Linked DNA regions of Homo sapiens: region 2 is linked to region 1. Evidence: fine-mapped expression QTL. Tissue or cell type: whole blood. Region 1 holds a variant in brackets; the other region holds the start of a gene. All regions are shown on one strand. Distances are from middle to middle.

The links. PIP is the estimated chance that this variant, and not a neighbour inherited with it, causes the effect.
Region 2: CEP57L1 starts here. The variant in region 1 is fine-mapped to the expression of CEP57L1 in whole blood (INTERVAL, PIP above 0.99).

The regions. Positions count from the first base shown.
Region 1 is chr6:108,964,401-108,970,000 of GRCh38, forward strand. ARMC2 (armadillo repeat containing 2) reads left to right here. Exons shown (of 18, transcript NM_032131.6): 17 at 580-740. Among named protein-coding and RNA genes, the nearest start is that of ARMC2-AS1, 43 kb to the left of the region's middle. The variant C/A (reference allele first, on the strand shown) is at 2,499.
Region 2 is chr6:109,093,132-109,098,463 of GRCh38, forward strand. It overlaps CEP57L1 (centrosomal protein 57 like 1), which reads left to right and starts at 2,376. Exons shown (of 11, transcript NM_001271852.3): 1 at 2,376-2,444. It overlaps SESN1 (sestrin 1), which reads right to left and starts at 1,715. Exons shown (of 10, transcript NM_014454.3): 1 at 664-1,715. The coding sequence starts at 942. RefSeq lists enhancers at 1,083-1,232, 2,103-2,362 and a silencer at 1,343-2,042.

The sequences.
Region 1 (5,600 bases):
GGGCAAAGGTATTTCAACATTGGGAAGCCCCTAAGCTGAGGCTAAAGAGGGGGTTTAGATTCCACTGGATACTTAAAATAGTGCAGAAGTAGGCCAGGTGTGGTGGCTCGCACCTGTAATCCCAGCATTTTGGGAGGCCGAGGTGGGCAGATCACTTGAGGCCAGGAGTTCGAGAGCAGCCTGGCCAACATGGTGAAACCCTGTCTCTACTAAAAAGACAAAAATTAGCCAGGCGTTGTGGCACACGCCTGTAATCCCAGCTATTCAGGAGGCTGAGGCAGGAGAATCGCTTGAATCCGGGATACAGAGGTTGCAGTGAGTGGAGGTTGCGGTGAGCCGAGATCGCGCGACTGCACTTCAGCCTGGGCAACAGAGTGAGACTCTGTCTCAAAAAAAAAAAGGTGTAGAAGTAGATTATTGCTACTTTATAACCACTTAAATTTATAGATAAGGAATTATTTTAAGTGATCACTGGATTATACTTACATATCACAGAAGGATAATCATTATGCTAACAATATTAAAATTAAAGACAGATTCTGACCTAATAACTTCTCAATTTGAATTTTATTAACTCAGGTTAGTGGACTGTTTAAGAGATTTGGGTCCTACTGATTGGCAGCTGGCCTGCTTGGTTTGTAAAACTTTATGGAACTTCAGTGAAAACATCACTAATGCTTCGTCATGTTTTGGAAATGAAGACACCAACACACTCTTACTCTTGCTCTCATCATTTTTAGGTAAGACTCTTGACTATGATGAGTCTGTGAGTTTTATCAGAGTGTGAGATAGTTTTTTTCTGTGACCTGTTCGGATAAATATTAGTATGCATTTAGGTGACTATATTTCTATAAGCAACAAGAGTATGTTAAAGATTACTATAATTTGGAACTGAAAAGGCTGAATGCTATTTACAGTGGGGACAGAAGGACTTTCAACTCATTAGATACATTCATGATTTCTTCTATGGCTTTTTTTTTTTTTTTTTGCATTTTCTCTAGAGTGCATAAATATAAGACCTCAGCGTAAATGTACTTCTGTTGTTCAAAAGCAAATAGACACTATTGTAATTGAGAAAATACGGCTAAAATCTACTCAAGTCATGCTTTTAAATGAAGCTATACATTTTAATTAGCTACGTTAATTATCATGTGGGTGAGGGCCTGTGAGACTATTTGGCATTACAATGGAGTTTATATCCTTGAAAGGTAGGAAATCACTGATACAAATCAAAGGAAAGAAGATTGTTTCTTTCTTTTCTTGGGACAGGGTCTTGCTCTGTCATCCAGGATGGAATACAGTGGTGCGATCACTGCTCACTGCAGCTCTAAACTCCTGGGCTCAAGTGATCCTCCTGCCTCTGTCTCTCAAGTAGCTGGGACTACAGACACGCACCACCATGCCCAGATAATTAAAAAAAAATTTTTTTTTTTGTAGCGATGAGGTCTTGCTATGTTACCCAGGCTGGTGTCAACCTCCTGGGCTCAAGCGATCCTCCCACCTCAGCCTCCCAAAGTGCTGGGATTACTGGTGTGAACCACCTTGCCTGGCCAGGATCATTTTTTACATTTAAAAAATTTTTATAATTTTAGGATAATTTTTTTCTTCCTGGGTTAATTCTAAAAACAATGATTTGGGTCAGTAAGTGAGTGTTTTTAATAATCCTTTTTCCCAAATAGAGGAGATGTACCCATCACTGCCCAGCCACCATACTAGATCCAGGAGGCCATGTGGAAAGGCTCAAGGTCACTTGGAAGCCATAGGTGCTGAGTTTTTAAATTTTGAGCTCAACTTCTCTGCAACCTGAGAAAGCTTAACAGACACCTTTCCTTTACACTCCTTCACTAACCAGAGCAGAGGCTCCCAATCCTGGCTGCAGAGCAGACTCACCCGTGGAACTTTTAAAAACACAGATTATCAGCCGTTCCGAAATGATATTTTATCATCTCCAAGATGAGGATAATTAATGTCCAGATTGCAGGGTGATAAATGAGCAGATGTGTACAAAGAGCCTAACACAGTGCCTGCTGCATAGCAAGTCCTCAGAAGGTGGCTGACGTGCTCTGGAAACTCTTTAAGTGTTGTAACACCGTGCTACTAAACAGAAACTGGAACTCAGGAGTTGTTTGAAATAATTGGGTTTGCTAGGTTGATGTGAAATTTGGTTTTTCCAGGTAAATATAATTTTGTACATGTGTTTTAAAACACAATAAGGAAAAAAAAGTGAGCATTTTTTTTTAATCATTGAGGTTCACAGTCGGCTCCATGAGCATTAAACTGACTCAGGTTGCAGGGAGCAGAAGTGCATGTTCAGGTTGCCTTAATTCAGTTCTCGATGGTGGTAGAGCATTGAAATCAGCTGTGGAGTTAAAACCCAAAAAAACTAAAAACACCTTCCTGGCCCCAGCCCTAGGAATTCTGATTCAGAAGCTCTGGGATGAGGCTGAGAATCTGTGTTCAAAGTTCCACAGGTGAGTCTATTAGCTAAGATTGAGAGC[C/A]CCTGCTCTCGTTAGCAAAGGAGCTTAAGGGAAGAGTGTACAGAGAAGAAAGAAGCCAGGAAACAAGATACTGCTCAAAGCCTCCCAGAGAGGCAGGCAGGAGCCAGAGTCCCAAGTGACCCCTCAGCCGTGGGCGTCATGAGCTCCGCCCCCTGGGCTCTGCCATTCTGGAGACCCAGCTGTGTTGTGTCTGCTGTTAGGGAAAGAATTCTCTCCCCACTTACTCTCTCTAGGCTCCTTCTAGATCATGGCTTCAGCTACCTCCAGGCTTCCACTTGCTGCCCTCCCTGTGTCTGTCTGTTGCCAGGGCACTTTCCTATGTCACCCACTCCAGGAGAAGATATGATTGGCTCAGTGAGTCACTGTCCTATGGCCCAGGGCTTTCCCGCATAGGCAGCAGCTACCGGGTGACAGGCTATCTGTGGTTTCCTTTGTTACCCAAGCCTGGGGCAATCAGCCATAAATAACAAGGATGGTGGGGCTGCGGGGCCGGGGCCGTGTGGCATAAAGATGGATCAGAAGGAGGTGTGGGCATGGCTGGCTTCTCAGCAGGGGCAGTGTACCTGGAAGGCACTTCATTTTAGTGGGCCCTGCTGCCTGTTACAGTCACCCCTTGGTATCTGGGGGGATTGGTTTCAGGGCCTGCCTCAGATACCAACACAGATGCCCAAGTGCCTGATATAAAATGACATAGAATTGGCATTTCACCTACACACATCTTCCTGCACACGTTAAACCATCTCTAGACTACTTATAATACCTACAGTGTGAACGCTATGTAAATGGTTGTCGTGCTGTGATTTTTATTTGTATTCTTTTTATTGTTGTTGTTTCAAATATTCTGTCTGTGGTTGGTTGAACCTGTGGATACGTGGCCCGTGGATGCGAAGGGCTGACTGCGCTCCATTCCCAACTTTTCCATAGCCTAACTGGGCTTCTGATTGTGCTTCTCCCGCCTCTGTGCCTTTGCACATGTTCTGTTTCATTTCCTGCCTGCCCATCCCAATCTGCCTAGCCAGGTGCAGGCCCTTCCCACGTAGCTTCTCAAGCCCACAGTCGTAGGCTAGTCATAGGAAATCTATACTTCTTATATAGCAATCAGTCATGAATTGTGTAACTTGTCCTGTAATTATCCTGTATTATTATTTTGTGAGTTTTATCTTATTTCCCCTTTGCAACTGAACCACCTTAGGAAAAGGATATTGCCTCATACAAAGAAGGTACTTGATAGCTGCATGTGGATTGGCTAACAATGGTGGTACCTTTGTTTCAATAGTGCTATATCCTTTTAAAAGCATGTTTATTCTATTTTTGAAAGATCTGAGGCCATCAGCTAGGTGACAGATACGGAAAGTAGGTTTTAGGACAGTTAAGTGGCTTGCCTGAAGTCATACTGTAGCAAAGGCAGGAATTCCCATCCGAAAACAAACAACTAGCCTTGTGTTTTCCAGCCGCTCCGTTACCTAGAACACCCTTACTCCACTGCACCTTGTGCAGGGGGACTGTGGCATGGATAACAGCAAATAAACACAGCTCACTCAGGAAGCCAAGCCACTGCAATGCATCCCAGGTTTCTCACGTGAGCTCCTCTTCACGAACCATGGGGACTGTGCCTTGTGGGCTGGGTGGTGGGCTGTGCTGCCTCCTGGCTTTTCTCTTGGCAATGAGCACTCAGACCCTGACTTCTGACCGGGTCGTGGCTGGGTCTGGGCAGTGGGACTGCTGCGAGTGAAATGGGCATGTGGGTGAGAGTATACTTGCATTTCAATTCTTTTACAAAGATAGCTAAAACAAACAAACAAACAAAAACAGGCCATTTTGGAAACAGGATGAGCTGTTGAATTACCAAGGCCTGTGTTGAAGTATGAACACTGTTTTTGCAAATACTGGTATGGCAATTTCTATAGTAATGTAAGTTACCTAACTTTTTCTTGCTGAGTGACTAGAAAAAAAGGAGAAGTAATATACCCTCAACATCGTTGGAATGTTGACAGTCTTTCTGGAAAGTGGCTTTAAAAGAACGTGGTCTGAAACTTCCCATTATACTGCAGTCATGTCTTATGAGCTCATAAGCAGCGTGTTGATGCTGAAGTTCTTAGTGGTGTGCTGAGCACTCCAGACTACCATGAGCCCCTCTGTGGGGAGCTGGCACCTGATGACCATGTGTGTAGTTTATTGTTGCAAATGGGAAGTACACTAGGCTGTTGTATGTTCATCCTAAGTTTTGTGGCAGTGGGCACTTAGGTTTTGTGACAAGGGTAGAGCGGGGCCCCACGTTCAAGTTGGAGGATCACATCAACCTATGTTGAAGAGCTTTCAGGTGCTTCTAGAACATTCGACAACTTTGCCTTATAAGAGAATGGTCAGGGCGATGATAAATCCCTTAAACAGCCATCTGCTGCTGAACAGCTAGCTAGGAAATAGTGTAGTGAGTAAAGGAAGCTTTTATAGATGCTGCAGGACACAAACTTCTAATGATGATTGTGTTGTAATGACCATTGATACATATTTATATTTTAGGGTCTTTTAATTCTTTCTAATACTTTGCCCCAAATTTTAGTATTTGGAAGCATGCTGTGCCTAAAGAAAGCTTAAGAATGATTGGTTACCTAAATAAGCACTTTTCACACTGCAGGTCAGGAAAACAATTTAGTTGGTTGTGACCAGCATCTTTAAAAAATGAAGTAGCAAAGAAAGAAAATATCAGAATGTATTATATTTAGTAAAGACAAGTATTATAATGTGAAACATTTGTTTATTCATATATAAGTAGGTATATGTATACAGAGTCATGATGCAAAATACTGTGAAGCACAGTTTCTAACTTATGATGATTCAAATCTTAAAAAGAATTAATCAAAGGCTGAGTGCAATGGCTCATGCCTGTAATCCCAGCACTTTGGGAGGACGAGGTGGGAGAATCACTTGAGGCTAGGAGTTTGAGACCAGCTTGGGCAACGTAGTGAGACCCATCTCTACTAAAAGTGAAAAAATTAGCTGGGTGTGTGTGTTTTGTAGTCTTAGCCACTCAGGAAACTGAGGTGGGAGAATCACTTGAGCCCAGGAATTCAAGGCTACAGTGAGCTATGATTGCACCACTGC
Region 2 (5,332 bases), 130 kb after region 1:
TTTAACCTGCTGCACTCGTATCTTAAATAGCTACACATGTGAAAAAGAAACAATTCAGGCAAACACAGAGAAAGCTAGTTGAGCAATTTGCCATAAAAGTGTTTCTATCAAATACCCCACCTGGGTCCACCTTTTCAACATGAAGATATTAGCTTCTTTTAAGATAGGTTTTTATTATTTTATATAATTCTCTTCTTGAAAAAAGAGAGGTTGCATTTAGAGAACACATCCTGGTTTGTTTTGTTTTTAAAAATAAGAGAAAATTGTTCCACCAATTATCTTGAACAGGCTGACTAGGAAACATTTAATATCCTTTATCATTTTAGAGGCTTTTAAATGTGAGCCTTTACACTCAGAACACTGTGACAATGTGAAAAAAAAACACTGGCTACATTTTCCAACAACATGTAAAAAGAAATATAAGGAAAAACAAGTATTTACTTGGAATTAACTGTAGTTTTCATATATTCTTCCAGGAGCAAAGCAGTTTCTGCCTAAAACTCTAGAAAAACACTACTTGTTTACTTACAGAACACTCTAAAGATGTAAACTCATAATAAAAGTTTACATAACAACCTAATAGAAACAAACACAACGTGAATAACGGCAAGTAAAATTTAACTGTAGTAGAGACATAGTTGTATTTAAAATGCTCTTCCTTACCTGGATGCTCTTCAGAATAAACTCACTTTTCTCTCTCACATCTTTGAAGGGACACCTCTTAGAAAGCATAAGCAGATGAGCAAGTAGCTTATTCAACCCATCCGAAGACTCGGTATTTGAAAGCCCGTCTGATGGACGATGAGGTGTTTCTTTCACCGAACGAAGATACTCGGTTTTCCTCAAAATGGTTTGCCTAATGTTTTCCAATGCTGTCTCCCTAGTAGTTGAATCTCTGCTGCAGAGTCCATCCCATCTCACTTCATTCTCTCCTTCAGCCATGACAATAGTTTTTCCTTTGCGGTCTTCAGTTACCTTTCAGCATGCCCCAAAAAAATTGCTTTGTATTTTTAAAATGAAAAATGTAAAAATAAAATCAGAGAAATCAAATCGTCATGAAAACACACATCTGGGTGACATTTGGAACCACTGGTGCCTTCAGCCGATCTACAAGCTAGGTCACCCTCTCACCCTCTCCTTGTACACGAAAGGGCAGTCTTCTTTCTGGAAAAACAAAGTTTGAAAGTTGCAACCTTGCAGCGCTGGCTTTGGTGGGCAGAGAATTTCGGGGAAGCGTTCTCCTCCGTCTCGCGGGGTCAGTGGATATCCTCACGTTGTGGAGCTGTCAAATCCGTGCTCTGCCCCAAAAGGCTGTTAACAGCTGAACGCCCTCCAGCCATTCGGGGCTTTTTTGTCTGTGCAGCCACCGGGTTCTCTCCGGCGTTCCCACCCCGCCCCTTCTCCGACACCAGTCCCCGCCCTCCGCAGCTCCTCCCAGCGCCTCAGCAGCCGGCCGGCGCCGGCAGGGAAGGCTCGCCGAACCCTGGCCCACTGGCCGCAGCGGCCGGAGGCTTGGGCGCTGTCGGAGGGCGGCAGTCTCGGGCAGCCGTAGTCTCGGCGGGCGGCGGTGAAAAAAAGCGTCCCCCAGCCCCGCCAATTCGGCACCCCCGGGAAGACGCTACTTCTCCGATCCCTGAGCCCTCGCCCACCACCGCCGAGCCAGAGGGCACAGGGCGGCCCTGGCAATCCTCGAGCGCCAGGCTGGGCCGCGGAGCTGGCGGGGCGGCGGGGCCCGAGGCGCAAAGCCCGCCCTTCGCCCAGCCCCATCGGTGGGGATCAGCCCAGAGGGCGGGAGCAGGGAGTGGAGACGGGGTCCTCACCCCCAGCCCCTCCCCTTTCTCCGCCCGGCACAAACCGGGAGCCGCCCCGGCCCCAGCGCCTTCTTCCCCGCCCAGGCAGACGCGACCCGCCGAGGCAAAGCCTTAGGAAAAAGCCCCGCCCTCTGGCAGGCTACCCTCCGGACCCCAAGTGCGCCGCGCGCGGCTGCCAGCCACTGCCGGCTGCTACGCATGCGTGACTGCGAACTGGGCCAAGCGCCCCCGGAGGCGCTAAGCTTGCGCCCTGAGGCGGTTTCCGTTCCCGGACGTTTGGACTCTGTCCTGGAGAAGGGGAAGGAAAAAGTAAGACGTAGAAGTACACTGAGACTTCGTCACACATAAAACAAGCACGACAAAGAAAGAGGGCGCGAAGGGACTCCTGGAAGAAATTGAGTCTACATTTAAGATCACCCTAAAAGTAGTGACGGCCTCTTCATTACTCCAAACCCCAGATTTAAGTCGGTAGGACGTCTTCGCGTTGACTTGTGGGGAATGTAGTTTCGATGCTGCCGGCGCGTTTTGTTTGCGACAGAAACTACAACCCCCAGGGGCCACCGCGACGTTGCCTGTGGGTGCCCGCGAACCAACGGTTAGCGGTGGCAGGGGCTGACTGAGAGCGTCTGCTTGGTAAGCACTGTAAGCTGGGTTGTCACCTTTCCTTGACAGGGTTTTTCCTTCCTCCATTTCCTCTGGGATTTTGGAGACAAAGCCATCTAGGGTGGCCTCCCTTAGTCCAAGGACTTTTTCCAGTGACTTGCGTGGGAAGGACTAGTCCAGCTGCCCAAGCGCGGGGTGTGGTGGGTGAGGCAAGGATTTGGGATCCTGATCCCAAGGGTCGCAGGGAGCGGCCTAAGTAAGGCCAAGAAGGAAGGATGCTGTGGAAACTGGAGCTTCGCGCTGCTGCCTCTGATTCCGCCCTTTTTTGTGGACACACGCGGGGTGGATTTGGGATCTCCGCGCATTTGCACCTTTGTTTGCCTTTGCTTAGGGATGTTCTGGGCTTTATTTGCTCAGTCAAATGAAATCCTAGGCAGGGCTTTGAAAGCAAGTTGTCAAATCCATCTCGTAAAAGAATCCCCAGTATTCCTAGATAGGAATTCTTGCAGGCTTTAAGGATACAGCAGGAAAAAGAAAGCAAAACCGTAAAAGTCTCCAAAACTTAGTCGACTTTTTCAAAAGATTCAGTCATTTGCTTAAAATTAGTTTGCTTTTAAAAAGTTATTATTTGAGAAAAGTCGAGGTTTGAACGGCCATCAGTGGACTGATAATCGGTGTAGATTTTAATTCTTTACATTGCAGAATTGCATTGCACTAAATTCTAAAAATTTCGTCTTGCTAGGCACTGAGTATACAACAATGAAAAAGACAGTCTTACTAGTTAGAGGAACTAGTTGTTAGACATACGGTTACAATAATACATGATATCACTGGGATGTCTAGAAGGAGATGACTTAGCCCAATCTTGGAAAGTCAGGGAAATCTTCATCCCAGGGGAAATGAAGACCAAAAGAACAGCATATGCTAAGGCCCAGAGTGAGAGATAGGGTACTTTCAGGAAACGTCAGTAAGCCAAATCATGCATACTTGGCGGTGTGGGGTGGGACGGGAAGGGTGCTTTTTGTGTATTGATGCACTTAGAAGCTACAAAGAGACAGGTATTGTGAATTCTTTACATCGTTTCTGTAAGTGAGCTATTTTTGAATAGATGCATAGTTCTGATGAATTGGTCTAATTTCAAAAGCCTTGTTACATTCTGACACTTCTAGTTTGAATCTGAATTTTAAAAAGGGAATAACTTATGAGTGTGATTGAAAAAGCAAAACAAAAACCATTCCGTTTTCATCTCCTTTTTGGGATCTTCATTCTCTATCCAGCCCATAAAGGGTCGGGTAGTTTCTTAAGGCTGGGTGCCTTTTTATGCCGTAGTTAAATATGATCTCATGTATACCCATGGCTTCACCAACACCTATGACTCTCAAATGAATAGCTCCATTCAGCTTCACCTCTCAGCTTTCACAATATCTCTTGGATATTTCTTCTTGGATATCTCAAAAGCATCTCAAACTCAACATACCTAAAACCAAATGCATAGTTATCTCTTATGAATCTAATTCTTTTTCAGTGTTCCTTATTTCAGCAAAGGACACTACTATCCATCTACTTGTGAAAATTTGAAAGCTAAACATTATTCTTTATTTCTTCTTGCCCTTCATACTTCTATGGCCAAATTATTATGAAGTTCTGCCAACCTTATCTCTCAAAATATCCTTCAAATATATTTTTCTCTCCACCTGTCTTCAAACTGCGATAATCTCTCAAGACCACTACAGTAGCAATTATTCACAATGACCCTCCTCCATTAGTTCTCCATTATATCTGCCAGAATGATTTTTTGAAACTGCAGATTTGATCAGATTTTCTCTTGGTTAAAACTATTCAGTGGTGTCCTACTACTGTTAAAGACAAAACTCCTTTATAAAGCCTGACATCATCTGGTACTCTTTCAGACTAACTTCATATATTGCCCTCCAGATCAGCCATACAGTCCATTTTTCAGTCATTGGTTCTCATATTCCATTTCACCCACGCGTTTACTCAACAAATCTCTGTTGAGTCCCTTTTATATAACAGGACATTGAAGATACAGCATTGACCACAATATATAAAAATTCCTACTGTCATAGAGCTTGCATTCTACTGAGGAGAGATAATAAATAAATATGTAAAACACTTAGTAAATGAAATGAAGACAAATGCAGTGGAGAATAAAACAACTGGGAAGGGGAATGGGGAGTGCCAGGATGTGAGGGGCAAGGTTCACTTTTAAATAAGGTTGTTAGAAAAGACATAATCCAGAAGGGGACAATTGAGATATGAAGTAGGGGAGGGAATAAACCATGTAGATGCCTGGGCAAATAACATTCTAATGAAGAGAATTAGTGCAAAGGCCTTGGGCAGAAGCCTGAGTGCGCATTTGAGAAATAGCAAGAAGGCTAGTGTGGCTGGAGCACAATGAGTACAAAGAGGAGAATAACATGAGGTCACAGAGAAAGGAAGTAATGGTAGGAGAACATGTAGGTGACTGAAAGGACTAACATTTTTAATTGGGTTGGGAAAGCATTGGAGAGTTTTGCGCAGATGAGGGCATGATCTGACTTTTAAAAAATGACTACTTTTCTCTCTCTCTCTTTCTCTCTCTCTCTCTCTCCCTCTGTCTCAACGGAGTTTTGCTCTTGTTGCCCAGGCTGGAGTGCAATAGCACAATCTTGGCTCACTGCAACCTCCACCTCCCAAGTTTAAGTGATTCTTCGTCCTCGGCCTCCCAAGTAGCTGGGATTACAGGCATGCACCACCATACCTGGCTAATTTTGTGTTTTTAGTAGAGACAGGGTTTCACCATGTTGGTCAGGCTGGTCTTGAATTCCTAACCTCAAGTGATCCACCCACCTCAGCCTTGCAAAGTGCTGGATTACAGGTGTGAGCCACCGTGCCCGGCCTCTTTCTTTTTTCCTGAG